Linked DNA regions of Homo sapiens: region 1 is linked to region 2. The links come from fine-mapping of genetic effects on gene expression. Tissue or cell type: whole blood. Region 2 holds a variant in brackets; the other region holds the start of a gene. All regions are shown on one strand. Distances are from middle to middle.

Evidence for each region. PIP is the estimated chance that this variant, and not a neighbour inherited with it, causes the effect.
Region 1: PLEK starts here. The variant in region 2 is fine-mapped to the expression of PLEK in whole blood (INTERVAL, PIP 0.99).

What each region holds. Positions count from the first base shown.
Region 1 is chr2:68,363,934-68,366,694 of GRCh38, forward strand. It overlaps PLEK (pleckstrin), which reads left to right and starts at 1,349. Exons shown (of 9, transcript NM_002664.3): 1 at 1,349-1,460. The coding sequence starts at 1,419. It overlaps LOC101927723 (a long non-coding RNA gene), which reads right to left and starts at 2,471. Exons shown (of 2, transcript NR_187652.1): 1 at 1,482-2,471. RefSeq lists an enhancer at 1,309-1,388.
Region 2 is chr2:68,406,291-68,409,051 of GRCh38, forward strand. No RefSeq gene overlaps it. Among named protein-coding and RNA genes, the nearest start is that of PLEK, 42 kb to the left of the region's middle. The variant G/T (reference allele first, on the strand shown) is at 1,310.

The DNA of each region.
Region 1 (2,761 bases), 42 kb before region 2:
AGGACACCAGTCACATTGGATTAAGGGCCCACTTGTTTCAGTATGACCTCATCTTAACTAATTATATCTACAATGACCCTATTTCCAAATAAGGATGCATTCTGAAGTGCTAAGGGTTAGGACTTCTTTTTTGGGAGATCTAATTCAATTTATGACAAAAAAAGTTAACATAAATTGTTCAAAAAAGAATGCTATGGCGAAGTAAGTTTGGAAAACACCATTATAGGATTCTTTACTGTAGTACTTTGGCGGGGCGAAGGTCTTTAATTTGTTCATCATTTAGAGGAGTTGCCAACCTGGGATTATTTTGTAAAGTTTCTCAAAAACCTGTTTGATGATGGACTTCTTTTTACAGGCTGACTGTGAGATCAGCACTCAACGTGGAACACCTGTTCTCATGCCTGATGTGAGGCAGTGGCACCCTAGCACATCCCTCCCTGGTTCTTCTGCTTTCCCCTGTGACCTGCAGCGTCAACTTGAGACAACTTTTCTTCTCTGAGCCTGAGTTTCCTTACTCTAAGATAAGGAAAATAATATACTTTCCCTATGGGTTTGATGTGTGGACTCATTTTTGTTGTTGTTTGTTTTGAGATGAAGTCTTTCTCTGTCGCCCAGGCTGGAGTGCAGTGGACCAATCTCGGCTCACTGCAACCTCCGCCTCCCAGGTTCAAGTGATTCTGCTGCCTCAGCCTCCCGAGTAGCTGGGACTACAGGCACACGCCACCATGCCCGGCTAATTTTTGTATTTTTAGTAGAGACAAGGTTTCACCATGTTGGCCAGGCTGGTCTTGAACTCCTGACCCCAGGTGATCCATCTGCCTTGGCCTCCCAAAGTGCTGGGAGTACAGGCGTGAGCTACCATGCCTGGCCGATGTGCAGACTAATTTAGTTTAAAATAAGTAGGCTGAGAAACACTTGATACAGGGCTTGGCATAGAGAGAAGTAGGCATTCATTTAGTAGTTAACTTTGTTATGCTAACCAGATGGTTCTGAATTTCTTGGCATTTTTATTGGGCATTTCCAGGATCTCAAGAATAATCCTTACTCAGGACAATTTTCACCAACAAGTTTTTCTTGTTCATCTTCCTCTTCCTTTCATCACTTCTTTTTCTCTTTAAAAGAGGGATTTTCTGTATGGTAGTAAGAATTTCCCTTAGGTAAATATTCAACCCAACTGTGGTTTTAATAAGTCTCCAGCATTAGCAAGGAATGGGTGGTTTACTCTGCAGTTCCTTATTCTGATCTTCCAACCCAGTGAGGGGAAGAGGATGTGATCATGCGACCGCCAGCAGAAGGGAAATTGTGAAAGCGACCTGCTGTAGAAAAGGCGGCCCACAGCCACCTCAGCATGCAGAGGAGGCCCAGCTGCTGAGAGGAGTTGCCTGAGAGTGACCTTTGCATCTGCCTGTCCAGCCAGCATGGAACCAAAGCGGATCAGAGAGGGCTACCTTGTGAAGAAGGTGAGCGAAGGTGCCACTTACCAGGGTGTCAGTGGACATGGGCTGGGGAGACTTGGGTTCAGCTCCACCGGCTACCTGCTCATCTTAGGAATGTTTCCTGTTCAACCAGTTGGGTTGAAATAGGGGAGCGTGGTAGCACATAGAATGTTGGAGTGGGGTTAGGGGAGTGGGGATACTCATCCAGCCCCGGCTTCCTTACAGTTTGATATTACGGGTCTGAGAATTCCAGATGGCAGGGCCTGGAAGGTGGGGATCTAAGCTAACTCCCTCCAGATTTAGAATATCCTTTTTAAGAGGCACACAGATGTGTTCTGTCAGAAGATATACTCCTCTTCTATGGAGGTTTCTTGGAGGGACTATTCATTTTTTATTTAAATTCCACTTCCCCTCAGTTCTTTTTTTGGGAGGCAAGGGGAAAAAAGTGATTAAAGAGTTGATATAATGATAGAGTAATTACGGCTTATTTCTTGGGCCATCTTCTTGGAATTGACACGTTTAAAAAAAACCTTATCTTTTTTTAATTGGGCTGAAATCTCTTCACTCACAATTCTTAGTAAATTTGCATAATGTGGCATCGAGGTGGTAGATGCACCATTTTAAAGATTAGGGTACTGAAAAAGGCTTAGCCTCCCTGGTGTGCATCATGAAAATTGAATTTTCTTAGTGCTGTTTGTCTTTCTTCGGATGCTGAGTGTGTGCTGTGTGGTTGTGAAAGCTCCCCGGGATGTGAATTCACACATAGGACTTGGTGTCCTGTGGGCAACACCTATATACACAGATATGCTCACACTAACCTTAGTGAGTGGATTGTTTCAGAAATGAGCTGAACGTAGTGCCTTCCTTCAGGTGCTTAGCTTTTTAGTTGAATGAACAGTGAATGTGAGTCTGTTTTAGGCTACTCATTTGTTTCACGTTTTAACCTACAATGTTCTACCTGTAAGGGGGGTTAAATAGCACACATTGCTGCCTGCTTCCATTTTGACTTCAGGCTGGAGGGACCCTAGGTCATCTGGCCTAATTCCTTCATTTGCAGAAGAGGAGACAGACCCAGAAGGCTCGGTGATTGCCCCAAGTCACATGGCTATGACAGTTGTGACCAGCCACTCCTTCTCTGATGCTTAGGTTTCTGATTCATGGCACTGAACTTTGTTCATTACTCCAGCATTTTCTTAAAGCAGATTTATTCCAAGTTAGGATTTGTAGTGTATTTGTGATGGTGAGAGCTATGAGTTGGTACTGGAGAATAAGTGGGCCCTCAGCTGCTAATCTCTGTAGCCAGCTGTGCTTCGAAACATCCTTTG
Region 2 (2,761 bases):
CTCCAAAGGATCACAAATCCTCACCAGCAAGGGAAAAAAACAGGATGGAGAATGAGTTTGATGAATTGACAGAGGCAAGCTTCAGAAGGTGGGTAATAACAAACTCATCCGAGCTAAAGGAGCATGTTCTAACCCAATGCAAGGAAGCTAAGAACCTTGAAAAAAGGTTAGATGAATTGCTAGCTAGAATAACCAGTTTAGAGAAGAAATAAATGACATGATGGAGCTGAAAAACACAGCACAAGAACTTTGTGAAGCATACACAAGTATCAATAGCCAAATCGATCAAGCAGAAGAAAGGATAGCAGAGATTAAAGATAAAATTAATGAAATAAAGTGTGAAGACAAGATTAGGGAGAAAAGAATGAAAAGGAATGAACAAAGCCTCCAAGAAATATGGGACTATGTGAAAAGACCAAACCTATGTTTGATTGGTGTACCTGGAAGTGACAGGGAGAATGGAACCAGATTGGAAAACACTCTTCAGGATATTATCCAGGACAACTTCCCCAACCTAGCAAGACAGGCCAACATTCAAATTCAGGAAATACAGAGACCTCCACAAAGATACTCCTTGAGAAGAGCAACCCCAAGACATATAATCATCAGATTGACCAAGGTTGAAATGAAGGAAAAAATGTTAAGGGCAGCCAGAGAGAAAGGTCAGGTTACCCACAAATGGAAGCCCATCAAACTAACAGCTGATCTCTCTGCAGAAACCCTGCAAGCCAGAAGAGAGTGGGGGCCAATATTCGACATTCTTAAATAAAAGAATTTTCAACCCAGAATTTCATGTCCAGCCAAACTAAGTTTCATAAGAGAAGAAGAAATAAAATCCTTTACAGACAAGCAAATGCTTAGAGATTTTGTCACCATCAGGACTGCCTTACAAGAGCTCCTGAAGGAAGCACTATGTAAACATGGAAAGGAACAACCGGTACCAGCCACTGCAAAAACATGCCAAATTGTAAAGACTATCAATGCTATGAAGAAAGTGCATAACTAATGGGAAAATAATCAGCTAGCATCATAATGACAGGATCAAATTCACACATAACAATATTAACCTTAAATGTAAATGGGCTAAATGCTCCCAATTTAAAGACACAGACTGGCAAATTGGATAAAGAGTCAAGACCCATCAATGTGCTGTATTCAGGAGACCCATCTCACCTGCAAAGACACATATAGGCTCAAAAGAAAGAGATGCAGGAAAATTTACCAAGCAAATGGAAAGAAAAAATAAAAAGCAGTGGTTGCAATCCTAGTCCCTGATAAAACAGACTTTAAACCAACAAAGATCAAAAGA[G/T]AAAAAGAAGGGCATTATATAATGGTAAAGGGATCAATGCAACAAGAAGAGCTAACTGTCCTAAATATATATGCACCCAATACAGGAGCACCCAGATTCATAAAGCAAGTTCTTAGAGACCTACAAAGAGACTTAGACTCCCACACAATAATAGTGGGAGACTTTAACACCCCACTGTCAATATTAGAAAGAATATTGAGACAGAAAATTACTAAGGATATCCAGGACTTGAACTCAGCTTTGGACCAAGCAGACCTAATAGACATCTACAGAACTCTCCACCCCAAATTAGCAGAATATACATTCTTGTCAGCACTACATCACACTTATTCTAAAATTGACCACATAATTGGAAGGAAAACACTCCTCAGCAAATGCAAAAGAATGGAAATGATAACAAACAGTTGCTCAGACCACAGTGCAATCAAATTAGAACTCAGGATTAAGAAACTCACTCAAAACCACACAACTACATGGAAACTGAGCAATCTGCTCCTGCATGACTACTGGGTAAATAACAAAATGAAGGCAGAAATAAGTTATTTGAAACCAATGAGAACAAAGTCACAATGTATCAACATCTCTGGGACACAGCTAAAGCAGTGTTTAGAGGAAAATTGATAGCACTAAATGCCCACAAGAGAAATCAGGAAAGATCTAAAATTGACACCCTAACATCACAATTAAAAGAACTAGAGAAGCAACAGCAAACAAATTTAAAAGCTAGCAGAAGGCAAGAAATAACTAAGATCAGAGCAGAACTGAAGGAGATAGAGACAGTGAATCCAGGACGTGATTTTTTGAAAAGATCAACAAAATAGATAGACAACTAGCCAGACTAGTAAAGAAGAAAAGAGAGAAGACTCAAATAGATGCAATAAAAAATGATAAAGGGGATATCACCACTGGTCCCACAGAAATACAAACTACAATCAGAGAATACTGTACACACCTCTATGCAAATAAACTAGAAAATCTGGAAGAAATGGATAAATTCCTGGACCAATACACCCTCCCAAGACTAAACCAGGAAGAAGTCAAATCTCTGAATAGACCAATAACACGTTGTGTAATTGAGGCAATAATTAATAGCCTACCAACCAAAAAAAGTCTAGGACCAGATGGATTCACAGCTGAATTCTACCAGAGGTACAAAGAGGAGCTGGTACCATTCCTTCTGAAACTATTCCAATAAATAGAAAAAGAGGGAATCCTCCCTAACTCATTTCATGAAGCCAGCATCATCCTGATACCAAAACCTGGCAAAGACACAACAAAAAATGAAAATTTTAGGCCAGTATCCCTGATGAACATCAATTTGAAAATCCTCAAAAAAAATACTGGCAAACTGAATCCAGCAGCACATCAAAAATCTTATCCACCATGATCAAGTTGGCTTTATCCCTGCGATGCAAGGCTGGTTCAACATATGCAAATAAATAAATGTAATCC